Homo sapiens: one gene and its partners. The protein of the gene in region 6 purifies or fractionates together with the protein of the main gene of each other region. This does not show direct contact. Each region holds a gene or a part of one and is shown on either strand. Other genes may lie near its edges. The genes, in order: TFRC, SUPT5H, TMEM63A, HS2ST1, PACSIN2, SLC35G1 and RER1.

The links.
Region 1: the proteins of SLC35G1 (region 6) and TFRC purify together in Homo sapiens (affinity purification with mass spectrometry; one large-scale study listed by BioGRID and IntAct). This does not show direct contact.
Region 2: the proteins of SLC35G1 (region 6) and SUPT5H purify together in Homo sapiens (affinity purification with mass spectrometry; one large-scale study listed by BioGRID and IntAct). This does not show direct contact.
Region 3: the proteins of SLC35G1 (region 6) and TMEM63A purify together in Homo sapiens (affinity purification with mass spectrometry; one large-scale study listed by BioGRID and IntAct). This does not show direct contact.
Region 4: the proteins of SLC35G1 (region 6) and HS2ST1 purify together in Homo sapiens (affinity purification with mass spectrometry; one large-scale study listed by BioGRID and IntAct). This does not show direct contact.
Region 5: the proteins of SLC35G1 (region 6) and PACSIN2 purify together in Homo sapiens (affinity purification with mass spectrometry; one large-scale study listed by BioGRID and IntAct). This does not show direct contact.
Region 7: the proteins of SLC35G1 (region 6) and RER1 purify together in Homo sapiens (affinity purification with mass spectrometry; one large-scale study listed by BioGRID and IntAct). This does not show direct contact.

Annotation. Positions count from the first base shown.
Region 1 is NC_000003.12:196,051,091-196,054,590, reverse strand, and holds part of TFRC (transferrin receptor protein 1), read left to right. Parts: intron 1-1,032; coding exon 1,033-1,173; intron 1,174-2,406; coding exon 2,407-2,649; 3' UTR 2,650-3,500. UniProt on the Homo sapiens protein: Cellular uptake of iron occurs via receptor-mediated endocytosis of ligand-occupied transferrin receptor into specialized endosomes. Endosomal acidification leads to iron release.
Region 2 is NC_000019.10:39,459,082-39,462,581, forward strand, and holds part of SUPT5H (transcription elongation factor SPT5), read left to right. Parts: intron 1-102; coding exon 103-168; intron 169-477; coding exon 478-508; intron 509-810; coding exon 811-879; intron 880-3,500. UniProt on the Homo sapiens protein: Component of the DRB sensitivity-inducing factor complex (DSIF complex), which regulates mRNA processing and transcription elongation by RNA polymerase II.
Region 3 is NC_000001.11:225,851,381-225,854,880, reverse strand, and holds part of TMEM63A (mechanosensitive cation channel TMEM63A), read left to right. Parts: intron 1-1,089; coding exon 1,090-1,252; intron 1,253-2,111; coding exon 2,112-2,217; intron 2,218-3,500. UniProt on the Homo sapiens protein: Mechanosensitive cation channel with low conductance and high activation threshold. In contrast to TMEM63B, does not show phospholipid scramblase activity. Acts as a regulator of lysosomal morphology by mediating lysosomal mechanosensitivity.
Region 4 is NC_000001.11:86,921,135-86,924,634, forward strand, and holds part of HS2ST1 (heparan sulfate 2-O-sulfotransferase 1), read left to right. Parts: intron 1-3,500. UniProt on the Homo sapiens protein: Catalyzes the transfer of a sulfo group from 3'-phospho-5'-adenylyl sulfate (PAPS) to the 2-OH position of iduronic acid (IdoA) or glucuronic acid (GlcA) within the heparan sulfate (HS) chain and participates in HS biosynthesis.
Region 5 is NC_000022.11:42,872,150-42,875,649, forward strand, and holds part of PACSIN2 (protein kinase C and casein kinase substrate in neurons protein 2), read right to left. Parts: intron 3,382-3,500; exon of another isoform or gene 343-3,381; intron 311-342; exon of another isoform or gene 1-310.
Region 6 is NC_000010.11:93,892,825-93,896,777, forward strand, and holds the start of SLC35G1 (solute carrier family 35 member G1), read left to right. Parts: upstream 1-1,153; 5' UTR 1,154-1,209; coding exon 1,210-1,387; intron 1,388-3,953. UniProt on the Homo sapiens protein: May play a role in intracellular calcium sensing and homeostasis. May act as a negative regulator of plasma membrane calcium-transporting ATPases preventing calcium efflux from the cell.
Region 7 is NC_000001.11:2,398,341-2,401,840, forward strand, and holds part of RER1 (protein RER1), read left to right. Parts: intron 1-1,074; coding exon 1,075-1,174; intron 1,175-2,516; coding exon 2,517-2,595; intron 2,596-3,500. UniProt on the Homo sapiens protein: Involved in the retrieval of endoplasmic reticulum membrane proteins from the early Golgi compartment.

The DNA of each region.
Region 1 (3,500 bases), on a different chromosome or scaffold from region 6:
CAGCCCAGGCAACATAGCAAAATCCCATCTCTAAATAAATTAATAAAACTAATATTAAAGTAGCTTCCAGATTGTTTTATGGTACTAGGAGTTGATTTTTAACAGATCTCTTAATTGAAGTAAATCACTGACAACCGAATCTTTTTATATCTTTTTTATTTTTATTTTTATTTTATTTTTTTTGAGAGATGAAGTCTCGCTCTTGTCCCCCAGGCTGGAATGCAATGACATGATCTCGGCTCACTGCAACCTCCACCTCCCGGCTTTAAGCGATTCTCCTGCCTCGGCTCCCCAGGTAGCTGGGATTACAGGCGTGTGCCACCATGCCCAGATAGTTTTTGTGTTTTTAGTAGAAGCCGGGGTTTTACCATGTTGGCCAGGCTGAAGTGCAGTGGCGAGATCTCGGCTCACTGTAAGATGCGCCTCCCGGGTTCACGCCATTCTCCTGCCTAAGCCTCCCGAGTAGCTGGGACTACAGGTGCCGGCCACCACGCCCGGCTAATTTTTTGTATTTTTAGTAGAGCCGGGGTTTTACCATGTTGGCCAGGCTGGTCTTGAACTCCTGACCTCAGGTGATCCACCCACCTCGGCCTCCCAAAGTGCTGGGATCACAGGCATGAGCCACCACGCCCGGCATCTTATGTCTTTCTTGAAACTAATTGTAACTGTTGAAAATGGAACTTACCAGGTGGAAATAACTAAATCCTGAAGTACCTTGAACCAAAATGTTTTCCCCTATAGGGACATTTTCCCCCAAAAGGAGAATTGAACTGGAAACAATATAGTACATAGGATTATATAATTATGTTCAATTTCTTAATGAGAATGGTTTTCTTACATGCTGGGCTCAAATATGAGTGTATATCACAGTCCATAGAGCTTGGAACCCCTGTGCAAGGTGCTTTCGGAGTCTTGAGCTTATCTGCGAGTTCCTTTTATCAGAATCTTACTTAACGCACGTTAAATTAGAAAGGCATACAAAAGAATGTCCTTAGAAATAAAACTTCTCATAGCGAATAATGTCTGTTTCAGGAAATGGGCCTGAGTTTACAGTGGCTGTATTCTGCTCGTGGAGACTTCTTCCGTGCTACTTCCAGACTAACAACAGATTTCGGGAATGCTGAGAAAACAGACAGATTTGTCATGAAGAAACTCAATGATCGTGTCATGAGAGTAAGTGAACTTTTGGGAAAGGAGGAACTAAAGTATGTGTAAAATAACCGATAAATCTTACACTTCTGCAAAGTGGACAAACTCTAGGAGTCTAGAATTCCTTTAAGAAGGGAGCATTAATGGTTTAGCTGTCATTTTCTGTTTCTGCTGTCTAATTCAGAACTTAGTCAAACCTAGTCTTTTTGGAAGAGACTTGCTGTAAAACTTCCATGTATGCTCCAATGGGGAAAAGAATCTGAACACATTTAAAGTTTTCCTTTGTAAAATGAATCAGTTTCCTTTAAAAAAATTTTTTTTTTTTTTGAGACAGAGTTTCACTGTTGTTGCCCAAGCTGGAGTGCAATGGCACGGTCTCGGCTCACTGCACCCTCCACCTCCCAGGTTCAAGTGATTCTCCTGCCTTAGCCTCCCGAGTTGCTGTGATTACAGGTGCCCAACACCACGCCCGGCTCATTTTTTGTATTTTTAGTAGAAACGGAGTTTCACCATGTTAGCCAGGCCGGTCTCGAACTCCCAACCTCAAGTGATCCACCTGCCTTGGCCTCCCAAAGTGCTGGTATTACAAGCGTGAGCCGCTGTGCCTAGCCTCCTTTAGAATTTTAACCTTAGAAGATTAGCATTAGCCTGGTTCTCAGCATTCTTTTTTCCTTACTCTGCTATAGAAAGTCTGATCAGCTGGCTGGGTACAGTGGCTCATGCCTGTAATTCCAGTACTTTGGGAGGCCGAGGCAAGCGGATCACCTGAGGTCAGGAGTTCAAGACCAGCCTGACCAACATGGAGAAACCCCATCTCTACTAAAAATACAAAAATTAGCTGGGCGTGGTGGTGCATGCCTGTAATTCCAGCTGCTCAGGAGGCTGAGGCAGGAGAATTACTTGAACCCGGGAGGTGGAGGTTGCAGTGAGCTGAGATCGCGCCATTGTACTCCAGCCTGGGCAACAAGAGCGAAACTCTGTCTCAACAACAACAAAAAGCCGGGCACGGTGGCTCACACCTGTAATCCCAGCATGAATTGCTTGAACTCGGGAGGTGGAGGGTACCAGTGAGCCGAGATAGCGCTGTTGCACTCCAGTCTGGGCAACAAGAGCGAAACTCTGTGTCAAAAAAAAAAAAAAAAAAAAAAAGTCTGATCGGCATTCTTAAATTTGGGACATTTTACATTTGAAGTGAACTGTTGTTTTACTACAAAAGTCACAGGGCTGTGTAAATTGCCTTGTGTGTTGTTTTCGTAGGTGGAGTATCACTTCCTCTCTCCCTACGTATCTCCAAAAGAGTCTCCTTTCCGACATGTCTTCTGGGGCTCCGGCTCTCACACGCTGCCAGCTTTACTGGAGAACTTGAAACTGCGTAAACAAAATAACGGTGCTTTTAATGAAACGCTGTTCAGAAACCAGTTGGCTCTAGCTACTTGGACTATTCAGGGAGCTGCAAATGCCCTCTCTGGTGACGTTTGGGACATTGACAATGAGTTTTAAATGTGATACCCATAGCTTCCATGAGAACAGCAGGGTAGTCTGGTTTCTAGACTTGTGCTGATCGTGCTAAATTTTCAGTAGGGCTACAAAACCTGATGTTAAAATTCCATCCCATCATCTTGGTACTACTAGATGTCTTTAGGCAGCAGCTTTTAATACAGGGTAGATAACCTGTACTTCAAGTTAAAGTGAATAACCACTTAAAAAATGTCCATGATGGAATATTCCCCTATCTCTAGAATTTTAAGTGCTTTGTAATGGGAACTGCCTCTTTCCTGTTGTTGTTAATGAAAATGTCAGAAACCAGTTATGTGAATGATCTCTCTGAATCCTAAGGGCTGGTCTCTGCTGAAGGTTGTAAGTGGTCGCTTACTTTGAGTGATCCTCCAACTTCATTTGATGCTAAATAGGAGATACCAGGTTGAAAGACCTTCTCCAAATGAGATCTAAGCCTTTCCATAAGGAATGTAGCTGGTTTCCTCATTCCTGAAAGAAACAGTTAACTTTCAGAAGAGATGGGCTTGTTTTCTTGCCAATGAGGTCTGAAATGGAGGTCCTTCTGCTGGATAAAATGAGGTTCAACTGTTGATTGCAGGAATAAGGCCTTAATATGTTAACCTCAGTGTCATTTATGAAAAGAGGGGACCAGAAGCCAAAGACTTAGTATATTTTCTTTTCCTCTGTCCCTTCCCCCATAAGCCTCCATTTAGTTCTTTGTTATTTTTGTTTCTTCCAAAGCACATTGAAAGAGAACCAGTTTCAGGTGTTTAGTTGCAGACTCAGTTTGTCAGACTTTAAAGAATAATATGCTGCCAAATTTTGGCCAAAGTGTTAATCTTAGGGGAGAGCTT
Region 2 (3,500 bases), on a different chromosome or scaffold from region 6:
ATGGTGGGGGCAGGTGGGGGCAGGGAGCAGGTGGTCCCTAAGCGGGAAGGGGCGGGGATCTGACAGAGCTTCACCCCTTCCTGACTGCCCTCCTCCCTTCAGGGTGTATGGAGGATCTGATGAGCTCTCAGACGACATCACCCAGCAGCAGCTGCTCCCAGGAGTCAAGTAAGGGGGTTGGGATGGTGGGGGCCGTGCTGGGGTGCGAATCTTGTATGGGGTGATGGTGCCTAGACAGGTGGCTCCCTGAAATAAGTCAGGGCAGAGTCACACAGGCAGTGTGGTGGATGGCAGGGGTAGGGAGGGCAAGGTGGCACTTTCTCTTTCCTCTTGCTCCTGGGTAGAAGCGTGGGGAAGTCAGTGAGTGTGAGGGAACCTGGATGTGAAACCAGAGGAAGGGGGTGGCCCTGGGGGTTCGTCTGTTTGTTACTGAAGATCCAGCTTCACTGAAGGCCTTCCTTTTCCTCTGCTGCTTAGGGATCCCAATCTGTGGACTGTCAAATGTAAGGTATGTGCTCTGATCTCGGGGCTTGGAGGAGGTGGGAGAATGAGGGAGGCTGCTTTGTGGGGGAGAAGTGTCTGTCTGTCCCGGGTCTCCGTGGCCTGCCAGTCACTTGGTCCTTCTGTCTCCATCCCTCACTCCACGTTACTGACTGGCTATCTCCCACCTCCATCTTCCTGGCTGTCCATCCTTCTTTCTCTCTCCTCTCTTGGTCCTACTTTATTTTTCTTGCTGCTGTCTCCTTCCCCCTTTCCTGTGTCCTTTCCTCCATCCTGTCATCTCTCTCAAATCTGCCTCTCATCTTCCAGATTGGGGAGGAACGGGCCACGGCCATTTCCTTGATGCGCAAGTTCATTGCCTACCAGTTCACAGACACGGTAAGTCGGGTAGACAGGCGGCTTGGTGGGGAGACATGGCAACACCCAGAGGGAAGAACATTGTCAACTTCAGGGGTACCAGGTGCCTCTGTTGTGAGCAGAGCTGCCTGCTGAGTGAGCTGCTTGAGCTGGAATAAGACCACTGCCTAGATGGAAGGGCTCTTCTCGGCCTAGATGGATATGTTGTCTTTGTTCTCTGCATTTATGGCAGGGTCTTCCCACCCTTGTAGCCCTTTGGAAGTCAGCCAGCTAGCTTCCTGCACCTTTTCTTCATGAGAGTGGGTTTGCCTGTTCACCAGCCCTGTTGGGCTGGGGTCACCCACTTCACCACATGCCAGGCAGCAAATGCTGCATCCAAGGCCCAGGTCTTTCTTTAGACTGACAGAGTTTGAGTCCTGCCCTTGCCACTTCTTAGCTGTGTGACTCTGATGCACCTACTTCCCCTCTCTGGGCCCCTTGGTTGCCTCTCAGCATCATTAGGATTAAGTGGCTTTTGGCTGGGTGCAGTGGCATTCACCTGTAATACCAGCACTCTGGAAGGCTGAGGCAGGCAGATCACTTGAGGTCAGGAGTTTGAGACCAGCCTGGCCAACGTGGTGAAACCCCGTCTCTACTAAAAATACAAAACTCAGCTGGGCGTGGTGGTGCACACCTGTAGTCCCAGCTACTTGGGAAGCTGAGGCAGAATCACTTGAACCCAGGAGGCAGAAGTTGCGGTGAGCCGAGATCGCATCACTGCACTCCAGTGTGACAAAAAAAAGGATTAGGTGGCTTTATGTCCAGCTCTCAGCTAGGACTTGTTCTGCAGCTTGCATTTACTTAGCAGAGCTGTTGTCAAAGGCTTCATTGGCAGTTTGGGAACCAGGGCAAACGCTATGAAGGGTGCTGGCTGGTAACTTTCTCAGTTAACATGATCCCTGCTAGGGATCATGCTTTCACCTGTCCAGCCACTGGGTGTGACCCAGTGGGACCAAGTAGACAGTTGTAGGGTTTGCAAACTATGCTTTTAAATGTGCTCAAATGTCCTCCTCAAAGGCCGGCCATGGTGGCTCATGCCTGAATCTCCAGCACTTAGGGAGGCTGAGGTGGGTGGATCACGAGGTTAGGAGTTCGAAACCAGCCAGTTTGAGACCAGCCTGGCCAACATGGTGAAACCTTGTCCCTACCAAAAATACAAAAATCAGCTGGGCATGGTGGTGCTTGACTGTAATCCCAGCTACTTGGGAGGCTGAGGCAGGAGAATCACTTGAATCTAGGAGGCAGAGGTTACAGTGAGCCAAGACTGCGCTATTGCACTCCAGCCTGGGCGACAGAGTGAGACTCCGTCTCGGGGTGGGTAGGGGGTGGAATGTCTTCCTCATTATTATAGTAATAAGTGTCCCTGCCTGTCATGGGTGAGATTGGGATTTGTGGGGTATGATTCCCCAACAGGGAGGTTGAAAAGGTACCTTTTGGCTAGGTGTGGTGGCTAATGTCTGTAATACCAGTATTTTGGGAGGCTGAGGCAAAAGGAGTTCGAGGCCAGCCTGGACATCATAGTGACATAGTGACAACTGATTTCTACAAAGAAAATAATAATAGGCCGGGCGCGGTGGCTCACGCCTGTAATCCCAGCACTTTGGGAGACTGAGGCGTGTGGATCACCTGAGGTTAAGAGTTCGAGACCAGCTTCACCAGCATGGTGAAACTCCGTCTCTACCAAAAATACAAAAGATTAGCCAGGGGTGGTGGTGCATGTCTATAATCCCAGCTACTTGGGAGGCTGAGACAGGAGAATTGCTTGAACCCAGGAGTTGGAGGTTGTAGTGAGCCAAGCTCGTGCCACTGCACTCCAGCCTGGGCAACAGAGCGAGACTGTCTCAAAAAAAAAAAAAAAAAAATAATAATAATAATAATTAAAAGAAGTGTGCTCAAATCCTCCTACATGGTACCCTGGGGTAAAATTCTAGTTACTTCATTTGAGTTATGTCTCTGATTATTATTTTTTTTTGAGACGGAGTTTCACTCTTGTTGCCCAGGCTGGAGTGCAATGGTGTGGTCTCGGCTCACTGCAACCTCTGCCTCAGCCTCCCGAGTAGCTGGGATTATAGGCATCCGCCACCATGCCCGGCTGATTTTTTTGTATTTTTAATAGAGACGGGGTTTCACCATGTTGGCCAGCCTGGTCTTGAACTCCTGGCTCAAGTGATCCACCCGCCTTGGCCTCCCAAAGTGCTGGGATGGCAGTTCTGAGCCACTGTGCCCAGCCTAAAATTTAATTTTTTTAAAGTGTAAACTGTGGTGGATTTTATATATTGTAGTGTATTCATAACCATCATCACCATCTAATTCCAGGACATTTTCATTATCCCAAAAATAAACCGATACCCATTAGTCATCACTCCCCATTCCTCCCTCCTCACAGCTCCTGGTAACTATGAATCTACCTTCTTTCTCTGTGGATTTGACTATTGGAACTCTGAATGGTTCATACAAAGGGAATCATACAATATGTCGCCTTTCGTGACTGACTTGCTTCACTTAATGTTTTCAAGACTCATCCATATTGTAGCATATATCAAGACTTCATTTTTTTGTTTGTTTTTTTGAGATGGAGTTTTACTCTTCTTGCCCAGGCTAGA
Region 3 (3,500 bases), on a different chromosome or scaffold from region 6:
CCCTCCTTGGTGGGTTCTCTCCCATCTCCCCAACTCTAGATTTTGGCTGCCTGAAGGCTCAGCCCCCAGTTCTGGGTCCACACTGCCTCTCTAGGTGACTTCAGCTGAACCCACGGCTTCCATGCCATGATACTGCTCCTGAATTAACTTATGCGGACAACATCCACATTTATGCCTCTAGCCTGCACCTCCAGGCTGGTAACCCAACTGCCCACCTCAAACTCTAGCTGGAGTTTTACTGGGTACCACGGATGTTACCTGCCCAAAACCAAACTCTCGACTTTTACCCTCAAATCTGCTACTCTACAACTTTCCCCATTCCATATTGTTTTTCTACTTGTTTTGGCAAAAAACCTCAAAGTTCACCTTGTTTCCTTTCTATCCCTCCCATGCCATACCCAGCCTACCAGAAAATCCTGACAACTCTCTCTAAAGTAGATCCAGAATCCCTTCATATCTCACCACCTCCATCACAACCGCCCTCATCCCACATGGGGATGACACAGTGGCCATCTGTGTAGTCTCCCTGACCCCATTGGAACAGATCCCTTGTCCTGGGCTGGCCCCCAGCCCCTTTCAGCCTTGTCTTCTGCCTCCCCTCGCCCACTGCTGTCCAGCCCCTGGATGTGCAGCAGACGAGGACATCCTCAGGTGTCTTGTATGTTGTTCCCTTTCCCTGGAATCCTGTCTTCCCAGGTTTGGGGATGACTTGCTCCTTCACCTCTTCACATTTCTGCACGAATATCACCTCGTTAGAAAGGCTCCTCCAACCCCTGTATGACATAGGAACCCTCCCTGCTTTGTTTTCCTCTAGTGCTCACCGTCCCCAGCAGATGGAATATTTGTTTGTCTGCTTGTTTGTGCCCCCAGCTAGAATGTGAACTTCAAGAGAGTGGCGCAGGGGCTTTGTTCTATTCTCAGTGCCTAGAAAGGTGCTTGGCACACAGATGTGTTTCCCAAATATGTGCTGAATGAACGGAAGAGTATACAGCCCTCCCAGGGGCTTTCTGCTCCTGCCCAGCCTAGGGGCCCCTCCTCTCCCTCCAAGAGCGGCTCTCAGCTCACAGACCTGGGCCCTGGTTTCCCCAGGTGCGTCTTCCTGCCTGACCAGGGTGCCTTCTTTGTGAACTATGTCATCGCCTCGGCCTTCATCGGCAATGGCATGGAGCTGCTGCGGCTGCCAGGTCTCATCCTCTATACCTTCCGCATGATCATGGCCAAGACGGCTGCTGACCGCAGGAATGTCAAGCAGGTGCCATCCCCTGGGCCCAGGGCTGTGCCTCTGACTCCCTCCCATGTCCCCCTTCACTGACCCGAGGGCCTCTCACCCCCACTACCCCCACTAGTGGGTAGCATTTACCTGACTACCCACTAGTGCAGGCACTGGGCTAAGTGCTTCTCAAACCCGGGTCCAGGCAGGCGTGGCCTCCTCCAGCCTCCTCTCTAGCTCACAGGCTGGAGGAGAGAGCTTGGGACTTTGGCATTTGAAACGGTTTGATCGCACACATACATACATACAACTCAAACCAACAGACTCTTTTTCTGTAGGCACCCATTTGCATAAATTCTTAGCCAAACCCCAGATGTCAAAGGCATTTTCGGCTTGTGGCATTTATTCCAGGATTCCCTGAACTGGAGGGTGTGGCTTTCTCTTTTATTCTCCTCTGCCATGGTGGGCACTGTGCGAGGAAAGTGGGAGAAGTGCTGCATTCCTTCATTTCATTCTCAGCCCCCTTATGAGCTGGGCACTGCTAGTATCCCGATTTCACAGAGGCATGAACTAAGCTGGCCCAGGATCCCCTGCTAGAAGGGCTGGAGTCACTCTACACCTCTTCCCTGACCACCTCTTCCCTCCAGGGGCTCACATGCCTGTTGGGTGGAACGAAGGGAGCACTAGCAAACACGCATCACCATGCCTCGGGAGGGCTGGGTGCACTGAGTGAAGCAGGGCAGGCTGGGAGGGATGGGAAGGACCTTGGGAGGCGGGGAGCCACGCATCTCCTATTTCCAAAGTCCTCCTCCACCCTGCTCTCCCATCACCACTTAGAGAGCACAAAAGGGTGTTTGAGGTGGAACAAGTCCATGAGCTCCTCACCACCTCCTCCTCCCAGAACCAGGCCTTCCAGTACGAGTTTGGAGCCATGTATGCATGGATGCTGTGTGTCTTCACTGTCATCGTGGCCTACAGCATCACTTGTCCCATCATCGCGCCATTTGGTGAGTGGCCCTGGAGCCTGTCCCAGGGTACATGGGTACATGGACGGCTGATTGCACCAAACCTCTCGGGGACAGCTATCACCAGGGCACAATGGAGTTCCCAAAACCACAGCCACAAGAGCCACAAGCTGCTAAAGACTCACGTGACACCAGATTTCACTCATTTCTTTCTTTTTTTGTTTTGAGACAGGGTCTCATGCTGATGCCCAGGCTGGAGTGGCATGATCTTGGCTTACTGCAACCCCCACCTCCTGGGCTCAAGCCATCCTCCCATCTCAGCCTCCTGAGTAGCTGGGATTACAGGTGCCCGCCACCATGCCTGCCTAACTTTTTGTATTTTTAGTAGAGATGGGGTTTCACCATGTTGGCCAGCCTGGTCTTGAACTCCTGACCTCAGGTGATCCACCCGCCTCAGCCTCCCAAAGTGCTGGGATTATAGGCATGAGCCACAGCACCCGGCCTCATTCATTTTTAAATGAATTCCTCCCACTGGCCCTCAGCTAGGACCTCTCTTAGTATTTCTGGTCTGAGGTTCTCTGCCCACTGACTATGTCGTTCATGGTTGATTTCTTTAGCAGCAAGTAAGACAGTGCCAGAGTCACAATCAAAGCTCTCGTGCTGCTTTCACTCTGGCAGATGCCTGCCTCCACGTGGATTACCACATTTCTCACCTCATCCTACAAGGCAGTTCCTGTTTCTATTCCCCCTTCACACAAAATAACTTCGTATGTTGTTAGTAAGCAGGAGAACCAGCCTTTGAACTCAGGACTGTTTAAAGACCAAGGTCCTGGCCACTGAAATAAAACATCTGCAACTGGCAGATTAATGAAAGGCTCTAGAAGGAAACAAAAAACCCAAGAGACTGCTGGCAGTGATAGCTGAGTTTTAGGGGGAAAAGTTGTTTTAGTTTTCCCTGTATACTTTCTTGTGTAGTTTTAAAAATCTACAGTATTTACACTTTCAAAACAAAATTTATTTTTTAAAAAAGAACCTGGGGCTGGGCACGATGGCTTATGCCTGTAATCCCAGCACTTTGGGAGGCCTAGGCAGTGCATCACCTGAGGTCAAAAGTTCAAGAACAACCTGGCCAATATGATGAAACCCTGTCCCTACTAAAAATACAAAAATTAACTGGGCATGGTGGCAGGCGCCTGTAATCCCAGCTACTCGGGAGGCTGAGGTAGGAGAATCACTTGAACTCAGGAGGCAGAGGTTGCAGTGAGCCAAGATTGCACCAGTGCACTCCAGCCTGACCAATGAGCGAGACTCCATCTCAAAAAAAA
Region 4 (3,500 bases), on a different chromosome or scaffold from region 6:
ATATGTATTCTGTTGTTATTGGCTGAAGTATGCTGTAGATGTCGGTTGGTAGTATTGTTATGGTGTTTTGTATTCTTGATTTTTTTCTGCCTCTTCATCAGTTATGGAGAGGGGTTTTGAAATCTTTGATAATTGTGGATTTGTCTGTTTTTCTTGTAGTTATGTCACTTTTTGCTTCATGTATTTTGAAGTGCTGTGATTAAGTATATGCACATTTAGGCTGTCATGTCTTCTTGATGGACCAACCCTTTTTTTTATACAAGATACCATCTTTATCCTTGGTAATATTCTTTGCTCTGAAACCTACTGCTGTGGTGTTAATGTCTCCCCCAAAATTCACATGTTGGAAACTTAATCTCCGATGCAACAGTATTGGGGCGGGAGGTGGAGGGTGTTTAGGTGATGAGGGCTCTCCCCTCATAACTGTATTAATACTGTTATAAAAGAGCTTGTGGCAGTGTGTTCTCTTTTTTCTACGTAAGAAGACAGCATTTGTCCCCCTTTTGCCATTTCTACCCCCAACCATGTGAGGATGCCACAAGAAGTCCCTCAACAGATGCTGGTGTCTTGATTTTGGACTTCTCAGTTTCCAGAACTGTGAAGAAATACATTTCTGTTTTCTATAAATTACCCAGTCTCAGGTATTTTGTTATAGTACCACACAATGGACTATGATACTTACTTTGTCTAATACTAATACAGACACTTCAGTTTTCTTTTGATTAGTGTCAGGTGGTATATCTTTTCCCATCCTGTTAATATTAACCTACTTGTGTATTTATATTTAAAGTGGATTTTTGGTAGACAGCATCTAATCTTTCATCTAATTTCACAATCTCTTTTGTTAATGGAATGTTTAGAACACTTAATGTGATTATTGATGTGGTTGGGTTTAAATTCGTGAGTTGCTATTTGTTTTCTGTTTATCTTAACTGTTCTGTGATTCCTTTTTTTCTGTTGTCTTTAGGATTAAAGGGGTATTTTTAAATTCCATTTTTTAATTTGATGACTTACTAGCAGTGCTCTTTGTTGTTGTTTTTTTTTTAAGTGGTTGCTTAAGGGTTTATGGTATACATGATAGAATTTCATGTGTAGTATAAGAACCTTAATATATTACCACTTTTTTCTGGGTTCTTGCTATCGTCATTATACATTTTACTTCTATACATGAGTCCTACAATACATTATTATTTTTGCTTTAACTTATATTTTAAAAATATATAAAATGTTTAAAAATTTTTTAAAAATTTGCTGACATATTTACCATTCCCAGTGTTCTTCATTTTGTGTGTGTGTGTGTGTGTGTGTGTGTATGCAGATTTTCATGTGGTACCATTTTTTTCACTCTGAAGAATTTCTTTTAACATTACTTACACTTAAAAATATACTGGTGATGAATTCTTTTCATTTTGTGTGTCTGAAAAAGTCTTTATTTGCTATAGTGTTTGAAGGATATTTTTGTTGGGTATAGAATTCTAAGCTGACATTTTTGTTGTTTCAGTACTTTAAAGATATTGCTTCATTGTCTTCTGGCTTGCATTGTTTCTGATGAGAAGGTTGCCATCATTCTTTGTTCAACTATATGTAGCGTGTCTTTTATTTTTCCTCTTTTGCCTACTTTTAAGAGTTTCACTAGGTTTTTAATTATTTAATTATTAAATTATGTTTCTTGTGCCCTTGTATTATGTTTCTTGTGCCTGGGGTTTGTTGAGCTTCTTGGATCTGTGAGTTTACAGTTTTTATTACATTTAAACATTTTTGGCTATTATTTCTTCACGTTAGTTTTTCTATGCTGCTTCTCCTCTCAGGAACTCAAAATACACTTACATTAGACCACATGAAATTGTTCTACAGTTCAGTGATGTTCTATTCATCATTCTCAGTCTTTTTGTGTGTGTGTGTGTTGTTTTAGATAGTTTTTACTGCTAGGTCTTTAATTCACCAATCCTTCTGCAGTATGTAATCCACTTTTAATATTACCCAGTTTATTTTTTATCTCAGGCGTTGCCTCCCACTCCTCCCCCTGCCCTTCTAGAAGTTTAATATAGGTCTTTAAAAAATTATGTATCATTTCTTTCCTTAACATCCTGTATTAGCCCGTTTTGACGCCCTGAGACTGAGTAACTTACAAAAGAAAGAGGCTTAATTGGACTTACAGTTCACATGGCTGGGGAAGCCTCACAACTGTGGCAGAAGGCAAGGAGAAGCAAGTCACATCTTATGGTGGCAGGCAAAAAATGAGAAAGCTTATGCAGGGGAACGCCTTTTTTTTTTTTTTTTGAGACAGAGTCTTACTCTGTCACCCAGGCTGGAGTGCAGTGGCGCAATCTCGGCTCACTGCAAGCTCCGCCTCTTGGGTTCACGCCATTCTCCTGCCTCAGCCTCCCGAGTAGCTGGGACTACAGGTGCCTGCCACCACGCCTGGCCAATATTTTGTATTTTTAGTAGAGATGGGGTTTCACTGTGTTAGCCAGGCTGGTCTTGATCTCCTGACCTCATGATCCACCCACCTTGGCCTCCCAAAGTGCTGGGATTACAGGTGTGAGCCACTTCGCCTGGCGGGAATGCCTCTTTTTAAAACCATCAGATATTTTGAGACTTATTCACTATCATGGGAACAGCATGGGAAAGACTTGCCCCCATGATTCAGTTACCTCCCACCAGGTCCCTCCCACAACACAGGGGAATTCAAGATGGGATTTGTGTGGGGACACAGCCAATCCATATCATTCCACCCCTGGCCCCTCCCAAATCTCATGTCCTCACATTTCAAAACCAATCATGCCTTCCCACAGTCCCCCAAAGTCTTAACTCATTTCAACATTAACTCAAAAGTCCACAGTCCAAAGTCTCATCTGAGACAAGGCAAGTCCCTTCTGCCTATGAGCCTGTAAAATCAAAAGCAAGTTAGTTACTTCCTAGATACATTGGGTAAATACAGCCATTCCAAGTGGGAGAAATTGGCCAAAACAAAGGTGTTACAGGCCCCATGCAAGTCTGAAATCCAGCGGGGCAGTGAAATCTTAAACCTTCAAAATGATATCCTTTGACTCCATGTCTCACATCCAGGTCACACTGATGCAAGAGTTGGGCTCCCATGGCCTTGGGCAGCTCCACCCCTTTGGCTTTGCATGATATAGCCCCCCACTCCTGGCTACTTTCACAGGCTGGCATTGAGTGTCTGTGGCTTTTCCAGGTGCACGGTGCAAACTGTCAGTGGATCTACCATTCTGAGGTCTAGAGAACAGTGGCCCTCTTCTCACAGCGCCACTAGGTGGTGCCCCAGTAGGGAATCTGTGTGGGGGCTGCAACCCCACATTTCCCTTCCACACTGCCCTAGCAGAGGTTCTCCATGAGGGCCCCGCCCCACAGCAAACTTCTGCTTGGGTATCCAGGTGTTTCCATACATCTTCTGAAATCTAGGCTGAGGTTCTCAAACCTCAGTTCTTGACTTCTGTGCACTCGCAGGCTCAACACCATGTGGAAGCTGCCAAGGCTTG
Region 5 (3,500 bases), on a different chromosome or scaffold from region 6:
GCCTTGGGTAGAAGAGGAGATACAGAGATGAGAGGAACTGATGGATCCTGGTCTCAAGGAGGCAGACTAGGGTGGTGAGGGGGAGGTGGCACTAGGGTAGGGCCCCAGGTCTGGCATTTGCCAGGTTAGGGAAGCAGAGCAGCTCAGAGCCCAGGGGTGGGCAGGGGCCTGTGTGCTTCTGGTTGGTAACTCACTGCAGGGAAGGCCAGTTGGGCCTGCTGGCTCGGACCTCGTCAGGAGCAAGCAATTGGTGGGAAAGAAATAGTCCCAGTGCTGTTTTGCCTTTATTGCTAAGTTTGAAGTTTTGTAACTCTCTTTGGCATTTTTTGGTCCATTTTTCAGAATTAGATGCAGTTTTCCCCCTGGTTTAGCATTTCCCTGATGCTTTGGATTTTGTATGGCAGCAATGCTGGTCAACATGCCTGCGGAGCTAATACCTGGGGCTTCCAGTGCTCCCCGGACTGCCTGGGCTCAAATCCCACAGCCATCACTCACTGGCTGGGAGACCTGGACCAACTGCGTCCACTCCCTGGGCCTGTGGCCCTCATCTGTGGACTGGGGGTACTGTGAAGATTAAGTGTTAAGACACTAAAGAACCCTGGGAGGGTGGGACATGCGTAAGCACTGGCTCAGCCTCCCACTGTCGTGCCGCTTCTGCCAGACCAGTGCGCCTGCAGATCTAACCCAGAGGCATCAGGAGCAGATGCAGGGGCCACAGGGCAGCAGCCACGATGAACCACCATCTCTTTCCACCGCTTCGTGCCTCGGGCCCCTGGCGTTTCTTTTGTCCTGCCTTCATTGGTTGCTGTGCTCTCACAGGCCTGGATCCAGGCTACCGAGGCTAGGATGAGGCCTGTAACCCCACACTACCATGTGGCAAACAGCCAGAACACCGCAAGAGACGTAAGTCAAGCCACACTGGCTGGGAGCTAATTTTGCATTGTTAAAAAGCAGGATAACACAGAAAATAGAACGGACAGGAAAGCTTTCACATTGTGCAAATGTGAACTGGTGATTAGAAGGTTCATTTCAATCAGTTTGCTTTTGACAATTTACTTGGATCTGGAAGAAACATTTTAAATCTACAAAATTACTGTCAAACCCAATAGGCAGGATTGAAAAGGAGTTAGAAATTATAAACAAATAAACCAACAAAGTCGGGGGTAACAACCCCAACCAAAGATATCAGAAACTGGATGAAGATGGCTTAAAGGCACATTAAAAAAAAATCCAAAAAAACAAAAAAACCCAACTTCTCAAACTGGGCAGAGGCAGCTGATAACCAGCCCAGGGGAAGAGTGTCTGGGGACAGCAGGCTGGCACTCTGGGTGCTGAGGGGAGGAGGCTGAAGACTGGTTAGAAGCTAGGCCATTGGGCACAGCCCCCAGGCCCTGGCTTCCCTGCTGAGTCAGGGGTTGGGGTGGTGGTGGTAAGGCAGCCTTTCCCACAAGTGTAGCCTAGGGGCAAGGGCACACTTCAGCCTGTGTGGGTTGAGTTCTGGCCCAGCTTCCCTCTTGGAGTGGTAGATGCTGCTTCTGGGGGAGCTTCACAAAGAGGGCAAGAGAGGGAAGAATCTGGGTTGCTGTGGGTCCACTTTGGCCCTAGGCCACTCCAGCTTCCTTAGGTGCTAAGATAGCAATTTTCTTTCCTTTTTTTTTTTTTGAGACAGAGTGTCACTCCATCACCCAGGCTGGAGTGCAGTGGTATGATCTCAGCTCACTGCAACCTCCACCTCCCAGGTTCAAGTGATTCTCTTGGCCTCCCCAGTAGCTGGGATTACAGGTGTGTGCCACCATGCCTGAATAATTTTTTTATTTTTTAATAGAGGCAGGGTTTCACCATGTTGGCCAGGCTGGTCTCAAACTCCTGACCTCAAGTGATCCTTCGGCCTTGGCCTCGCAAAGTGCTGGGATTACAGGTGTGAGCCATCGTGCCCGGACAAGATAACACTTTTCAAATTGAAGATGTGAAAAGCCATTTTGGTAAACTGCAAATGCATTAAAAAAGATTCCTATAGTGGGTGGGGTGGTAGCACACATCTGTGGTCCCAGCTACGTAGGAGGCTGAGGTGGGAGGACTGCTTGAGCCCAGGAGATCAAGGCTGCAGCTGCTGTGAGCTATGATCGCACCACTGTAACCCAGCTTGGCTAACAGAGTGAGACCGTGTCTCTATTAAAAAAAAAAAAAAAAAAGATTATCATTGAAGACCATTCAAAGAAGAAAAAGACATTGCACAGAAAGTCTTCACAGGCAGAGCACATGTAATCAGGATCCAGGCTGTTTTATAAAACTATGGTTTCTGCTCCTAGCAACACAGATATGTGTGTGGGTTGGTGTGTGCATGGTAGGTGTGGGCAGGTAGGTGTGCACACACACAAGTTGCTGCCTGAGACAAGGCCCCACCTGGCCCAGGGGCATGCCAAGTGCTACTCTGGGGTCTGGGCAAAGCTGTGGCTCTCCTGAGGGCTTCTCTGGCAGTTGGGGACCCCTAGAGAAAGGCTTCTCTCATGGCCCTGCGGGGCTAGCAGCTCCCAGACTACATATGGGGGAACCTGGTGGTCCTGGCCAACAGCTTCTCCAGATGCCCTTCTGTGTGACTAGCCAGTGCCCTGCAATTCACAGCCTTGGCCCAGCAAGGTGAGGAGTCCAGGCACTGGCTTGGCAGCACCTCACTATTTCTGAGTCTTGGCATTGGGCATCCGCTTTTTTTTTTTTTTTTGAAAAAGAGTTTTGCTCTGTCGCCCAGGCTGGAGTGCAGTGGCGCAATCTCGGCTCACTGCAAGCTCCGCCTCCCGGGTTCAAGCAATTTTCCTGCGTCAGCCTCCCGAGTAGCTGGGACTACAGGCGGCTGCCACCACGCCCGGCTAATTTTTTGTATTTTTAGTAGAGACGGGGTTTCACACTCTTAGCCAGGATGGTCTCAATCTCCTGACCTCGTGATCTGTGTGCCTCGGCCTCCCAAAGTGCTGGGATTACAGGCGTGAGCCACCATGCCCAGCCTACTTTTTTTTTTTTTTAAGAGATGGGGTCTTGCTCTCTCTTCTAGGCTAGAGTACGTGGTATGAACATGGCTCACTGTATCCTCTTGGGTTTAAGTGATCCTCTGCCTCAGCCTCCCAAGCAGCTGGGACTATAGGTATGCAACACCACGCCCAGCTAATCTGCTACTTTTGTTTGTTTATTTATTTGAGACAGGATCTCGCTCTGTTGCCCAGGTTATTTATTTGTTTGTTTGTTTGCGACAGGGTCTCGCTCTGTTGTCCAGGTTGGAGTATAGTGGTACAATCATGATTCATTGCAACCTCAATCTACTGGGCTCAGGTGATCCTCCCACCTCAGCCTCCCAGAGAGCTGGGACTACAGGCATGTGCCACTAAAATTAGCCCAGCTAATTTTTTTTTTTTGACACAAAGTCTTGCTCTGTCACCCAGCCTGGGGTACAGTGGTGTGACCTTGGCTCACTGCAACCTCCACCTCCCAGGTTCAAGTGATTCTCCTGC
Region 6 (3,953 bases):
AAACACACTTTGATTTTCTAACATAGTGTTTTCCAGGTGATATTATGCTTTTGCCCACATCATTGCATTTTATTTACATAACTACTCTGCGAAGCAGGAAGGGAAATACTTGATCGCTATTAAATAAAGGAGGTAATCAAGGCTTCGAGGGGTACAGTGGTGACTGAGGTCACACACTCAGGGCCAGAACCTAGGATTCCTGACTTCAAGTCTAAAACTGTTTCAGCTGTGGATCACTATGTGCAAATGTCTGAGTAAAGGCAAACTTCACTCTCCTTTGGTGATCTGCTTGGCACTGGACTTAGAAGTTTAGATACGTTCATCCTTGCACAGAGACTGTTCTTCCACATATAAAGCAAGCAAAGAGATGGAAGAAGAATTATTAGCTAAACAAAAAGAGGCTGTTAGTGAATCCTGGGCCAAAGAATATATTTTACCAGGTCTAATTACATCAGATTACTTGAATCTTACATCTGGCCAAATTAGGATATTTCCATTTAAGAAAAGAAAACCAAAGATCAATAATGCATGCCTACTCTTGCAAAGAATGCAAAGAACATATAAATGGGTTCTGGTCAGTCTTATAGATATATTTTCCTATAATTACACACTAATTCTTTCTTAAAAATATTTCCCAAAACAGCAAAATTCTACCCTCCTTGGTAAGCAGCAAAGGGACAACACGGGAAACAAAACAAAACAAAACAAAACAAAACAAAACATAAAAACCCTAGACCATTTAAAGACAAGCATGGTGCTTTGTAAAATCTTCGGGGTATCACAGAGGTGCTGAATGCGTGGTTACATCAATGAAAAAACGCCCACTCTTTGAGCCTCCTGAAAAGGAGGCCACAGGACCCCCGGGCGCCAGGGCTTGGGAACCCAGCGCCCCTCCTTGTCTGTGCCATGACAGACAGGTTCAGTGTGACTTGCCAAGGATGGCTCCAAGCAGCTGGGCCATGTAGCCTGAACGCAGCAGAGGGTTGGACGCCTTAGAGCCAGCTGTGGGCACCACAGCCCGACCAGGGAGGCAGCGGGTCTCCCCAGGTTAAGAGGCCAGCGGAGGACGCGCGCGGTCTCCTTGGGGGAGGGTGCGGGTGGGCCGGGCGCGCATGCGCATGGGCGCCATCGCCCGCCGGAAGAGCGGCAGCCCAGGCGCTGCTGCTGGCGCCAGACGGCACCGGCCGCTGGTAGAGCGCGTGCCGCGAGATGCGGCCTCAGGACAGCACCGGGGTCGCGGAGCTCCAGGAGCCCGGGCTGCCGCTAACGGACGATGCACCCCCGGGCGCCACTGAGGAGCCGGCGGCCGCCGAGGCAGCTGGGGCGCCAGACCGCGGTAGGTGCTGGCTCTGCCTTTCCTCGCCGTGTTGCTCCCGCACCGAGCCGGGTGAGTGCGCGGTGTGGATCGGGCTCTGGTCTCGCTCGGGGGTCCCGAGCGGGCGCCGGCGGGTTGGGGTCCCCGCAACCCGGGCACAGTGCCCGCCGCGCCTCCGTCCCCACCCTGCCCGGGGCTCGGGAAACCCCTCGAGCTGTCAGCTGGGGGGCTGCAAAGCGGAATTCCCGGCGCCCCAGCCGGCGCTAAGACGGAAGAAACTTTCCGATTGTTAGCAGTCCTTTTGGGATTCCGAGGCTGCTCCTGTAATTAGTGTCGGGGCAGGGCTGTGGAGTCAGACTGCAGTTTGGCGTACCCTCCCCTAGGTCGTAGGTGGGGGGTCAGCGAGAGAGGCCATCCTGCAGTGGGGCGACGTTGCGAGGAAGCTGACCCTGAAAAGTGATCCCGGTGGTTAAGGGTTCTCTCCGAAAAGGAAGCTGAAAAGCATCGAGTCTAGAAAAAATGTTCGTCCTAGAGTTTTAGAATCTTGGAAAGGCAGAGATAAGTGGGACCGCTAGTTTTTAACCTTTAGGGATACAAGGACTTTTTAGCAAACGATGCAGAACAAGGCATATCTTGTTAAGAAGCTCACAGCCCCGTCCCCAAAGTCAGGGACCCCTCGTGAAGAACACTTTATGTTCAGTCCCCCTCCTTCGACACATGAGCAAAGTGAGGCCCAGGAAGGTGAGGGCTTTTGGGTTTTCGTTTGCTTTGTCTCCTCCAAGATGTGGAACGTGGGGGTGAGATGGGGCGCATGTCCAGGGAGCACCAGGGTTAGGATCCCAGCTTGCCATATACCGGCCTAGGGCCCTTTCCACTGGCCACAAGTGCTGCTTCAAGCACATTCCTCTTAGAAGTCGACCATCTACCAGGAGCAGCTTCCTGCAAGAAGAAGGGAATAGGCAGATCTCTTTTTAGGACAGTTACACGGCCTGCACCACCTTGTCCTCTGGGTCACCTCCCCTAAGTGTGACCCTGGATTTCTGTTCCTCTCCTCTCACTGCGCTTTCCCCTCCTCCCTTTGTGCACTTTCCCCAAGTTAGAGAGACAGACTCTAGGAAGACTATTCTTGCTCCATTTCTGTCCTAAAGGCAAACCGAAATGATCAGACTTGTGATCATTTATAAATGGGCTGGTGCCTCTAGAACAGGGGTTATGCCAGGCTGAATTGAACAGATAAGCAGCCTTTGAAAAGGTCAGTTTCTCACCTATCACCCTCTGGGTGAATGTCCTTCTGGTGGCATGCCGAATCAGTCCATGCAAACTCTTAAAGTTTCCCCTTTTTGTGAATGGAAGAGGAATTCTCTACTCCCAGGCAGCTCATGGCAAGATGAGAAACTTACGTGAGTGTATCTAAGAATCTTGTGGGTGTTTAACTTCAAAGAAAGTTTCTACCAGTAAGACTTAGTTATTGTAAGGTGACAAGATAATATTTTGGAAAGAAAATTGACATAAAAACACTTTACTGTTGTCATTGAACTTTGTGACACCTCTTGTTCTAACTGCTTATCTCAACAAAGCTTTTTTCAAGTTCTGGTTGGAACTGTTACCCATATGTCTTACATTCTTGGATGACCTTAACAGACACATACAGCTGTCCCAAGACATCTCCTTACTTTCTTCAGGGACAGTGTGGGTCTTACACTGAAGCAAGGAGAAGTAGTTTCTTAGGCCTGTGCCTCACATCCTCTGGAGGGAGTTAGTGATCGAGTGTAGCAGTGGTTCTCAAACTAGTGGAGCCTTTTAGAGTTACAGAGATTCTATTTCGGTGGGTCTGAGATGGGGCTTGAGAATTAATTTTTTTTTTTTTTGGAGATAGGGTCTTACTCTGTCACCAAGGCTGTGGTGCATTGGCGTGATCACAGCTCACGGCGACCTCAACCTCCTGGGCTTACTCGATCCTTTCATCTAAGTCTCCTGAGTAGCTGGGACCACAGGCACACACCACCACACCCGACTAATTTAAAAATATTTTTTGCATTGATGAGGGGGTTTCCCCGTGTTGCCCAGGGTGGTCTCAAACTTTTGAGCTCAAGAGATCCTCCCACCTTGTCCTCCCAAGGTGCTGGGATTACAGGCATGAGCCACTGCACCCAGGAATTAAAGTTTTAAGTGTTACTCAGGTGATTCTAATTCCCAACCAGGATTGCGAATCACCAGCTGAAAGCAGAGGATAGAGAAGCTGAGTAATTTTTCAGTTTTCTTCTAAGTGAGGAAATTACACCATGGCCACTTACCTAATTTGAATAATTTGAGTTACCAAATTATTAGATATGCTTGCAGTGAGATATGAACATGGAACCTAAACAAATGCCTCTTTCAGTTATGCTAGTCATGCTCATCTCCATTGACAGGATTGAAATGATTTAGTAAGAAACTGAGGTTTGTCTGAGTGGAGCCAGTCCTCACCCTCGTTAACAAATCATCAAATGCAGCGAGGCCTTCTAATGTCTGTCCCTTCCCAGTTGGAAAGCATGAGCCTTAAGTGTTTATAGGCAAGAAAATACATGTGTATGTGTTTTAAGGGGAAAGGTCACTAGGGCCAAGGGGGTGCAATTACATTTTTAAAGAGTTAAAATAT
Region 7 (3,500 bases), on a different chromosome or scaffold from region 6:
TTTAGGCAGAAAGACTTCTTGTTTGTATAAGAAAGTTAAAGCATTTATATTTTTATTTATTGTTTTGAGATGGGGTCTCACTCTGTCGCCCAGGCTGGAGTGCAGTGGCCTGATCTTGGCTCACTGCAACCTCCACCTCCTGGGTTCAAGTGATTCTCTTACTTCAGCTTCCCGAGCAGCTGGGATCACAGGCATGTGCCACCATGCCTGGCTAATTTTTGTATTTTTAGTAGAGACGAGGTTTCACCATGTTGGCCAGGCTGGTCTTGAACTCCTGACCTCAGGTGATCCACCCGCCTTGGCCTCCCAAAGTGCTGGGATTGCAGGCGTGAGCCACCACACCCGACAGAAATTTAAGGCTTTTGAAATTGAGAATGCGGTTCTGGCTTTTAACGGGATATGCTTAATCATTTTAAAAAATGAATTAGTTGCAAATAAGTGTGCTGCACTCAGGCATCTTGCCAAAATTCTCCCCACTTTTCATCTCTTGAGGAAGGCTTGGCATAAGCACACTTTTCTGGATTTCCCAGTTGTGGATTTCTTCTGGGCAAAGGTTTAACCCTCCTGGCAGAGTGTTTTTGGCAATGTGAATTGTCTGTTGGAGGAACATCAGCCAGCACGCCTCCAGTCACAGTTGAGAGTCTGTCTTCTGTTTCTGATGAAGCTGCTCCTGGGTGGGGCTCTGGGCCAGCATCGCTCAGGTGCCCGGGCCACCCGAGCCTGTGGTGTAGCTTGAGCATGTGCTTCTTGAGAAAAGCCTCCTTTTCTGCTGCGCTCCTTGTGGGGCGTCTGTGGCTTCAGGGATCACATGTGTCTAACTGGACCCTTGAAGAGCTTTGCTCATTTGGGCCCTTGCTTGTCCGCTTTGTCTCTGTTCCCACAGAGTATAATTTGAGATAAATTGTTACCATGGGATTTCACTGTATTTCCTTGTCCTTGCTATGAGTAAGTTTTGTGTTAAAACAAAGTTAGATCAGTTAACAAAGTTGAGAGTGAACCGGAGTGCAAACGTGAACTGGCTCAGGCTGATGGACGGTCAGAGTGCACCACTGACTCTCTTTCCTTCTCTTTCAGGGTTGGTACATTGTGACCTATGCCTTGGGGATCTACCATCTAAATCTTTTCATAGCTTTTCTTTCTCCCAAAGTGGATCCTTCCTTAATGGAAGACTCAGGTAGGGTAGCGGCTGTGCACTGGGCTGTGTGGGCAGGTTGGGCCTTTCTTTTCTGATGGGATTGCCCAGTGTTCTCTGGAAACACCCGAGACTCTTCTCTTGGGGTTGAAATGTACTTGTAATGTTGGGTGATCAGGATATGTTTGTAGAATGACTCTTCAAACCCTCCTGACAGCCACGAAGTGGGTGTTCATTCTGTTTTCCCACTTTGCAGATGAGGAAACTGAGGCATACAGGGTTAGGTAACGTGTTCGAGGTCACATGGCACCACAGACAGTAGGGGTCTGAGGTGGACAGTCCGACTCCAGCCCCCGTCCCACCCCAGTCAGTGGTCCCTCTCAGAATCAGCGGAGGCAGCCATGACGAGGTTACCTTTTCCCGTAGCCAGAGGGTTCCACAGGCAGCTCACTGTGGTGCACAGAGACCGCCGGGACTCTAATGCCAGCATCGGGTCGGGTCAGGCTTTGGGCGGCCTTCTCTGGTTTCTGAGGAGCTGTGAGCTGAAGTGTTCCTGGTGCTTCGTGCTCCACTATTGGAAGACTTACGCAGCTCCTGGGCCTGCCTGGGCCAGGTAGGGGCCCTGAGTTCATGCCTGACTGGCCAGCCCCAGGCGAGGAACAAACAACTGCATTCCAGGACGTGGTGGCCATTGAGGGAAAACCCACACGCAGCTCCCTGCCAGGACCCTCCTCGTTCTGGGGGAACCTGCTGTCAGGGAGTAGGGTATGCTCTCACTGTGTGGCCAGAAGCCTGTGAGTCTTCTGTGTAGGATATGTGATGAAAAGATTGCTGGGAACACAGCCCCTCTCTGTTGTTGCTGTTTGGAGGAGACTAGAAAATAACAAAGAGCCCCTTTCCTGTAGGCCTCAGTTTTCCCATCTGTAAATGGGGAGCGGCACCCATCCCAGTGGGGGAGGCGGGGTGAGAGTGGGCTTGGCACAGCTGCTGGTGGGACAGGCCTGGCGCCCGGGTTCCACGGTCAGCGCATCCTCGGCCCCGCCCTGTTCTCTGCCGCTTGCTTTTTATGTTAATTTGCCTTTGTTTTCTTCTGTGCCTTTACGTGGTGCAGCTGACGTGTTCCTGGATGTTTATATGTGGTTGAATTCTTCGTGCATTGAAAACGTGTGGAAGTCTAAAAACATTCTGATAGCACCTTCTGAAAGCAGTGAATTGGATGTGTCAGTTGACCACAGACCCCCGTTTTCTCGTTTTCTCTGGTTAAATGACATGAATCTCGGTTTAGATTTGTGAGGCCTGCTAGTCCAAAGCCTTGAGGGGAAAAGGTAGAACTGTGATGGGAATGAAAAGAGGTGCCCTCCCTGATGGTTGCTCTGCCTTACAGATGACGGTCCTTCGCTACCCACCAAACAGAACGAGGAATTCCGCCCCTTCATTCGAAGGCTCCCAGAGTTTAAATTTTGGTGAGCTAATTCTTCACGGTATTTGAAGAGAATTGTGCTCAAGGGTGGCTGAGACTGAGACTACACTGATTTTTGTTCAAGTCACCTGAAAGATGACTGCTGTGCTGGGCTGGGCACGGGGAATCGCAGGGGCTCTCTGTAGAAGGCCACTCACTACCTTGCCGCATTCTCTTGGTTTCAAGTCAGCACCAGTGCCCTGGAGGTTGAGTCTGGGATGGAGTGCGCACCGGCTTCTGTGGTTGTGGCCTGGGGAGGGCAGGCCCTCTGTCCTCCCTCCTCCTCCCTCCTCCTCCCTTCCTCCCTCCTTCCTCCCTCCTTCCTCCCTCCTCCACCCTCCCTCCTCCCTCCTCCTTCCTCCCTCCTTCCTGCCGCCTCCTCCCTCCTTCCTGCCTCCTCCTCCCTCCTTCTCCCTCCTTCCTCCCTCCTCCTCCCTCCTTCCTCCCTCCTCCTCCCTCCTCCTCCCTCCTCCTCCCTCCTTCCTCCTTCCTCTCTCCCATCCCCAGCCTTGTGGCTCCTTTTGGCTGGCAGAGGGACTAGCCTTCTCCTGGAGTCATTTTTGAGAGGGGTTTGAGCCGAGGTGTCCGTGTCTGCACGGGTAGGCAGAGGTGGGTGGTGCAGCCGTCAGAGGGACGGGAGCGTGTGCATCCGTTTGTCTTGTCCCTCATACCCCACTCTGGGAGCACAGGAGGAACCCAAGTCTGTTAGATCAGTAAACTGAAGGAGCCTGCTGAGCTCGTGGGGCTCCACGCCTTGACTTTGCAGCCGCAGATGGAGTGTGGTACAGAAAGATCAGGGGCCCTGGAAGCCACCAGAAGCTTGGACTAGGAAGGGAGAGCTGAGCCTCCAGGGCCGTGGCATCTGTTGGCCATGTGCTGGGACGGGAGGGAGCACTGGTGGCCATGCCA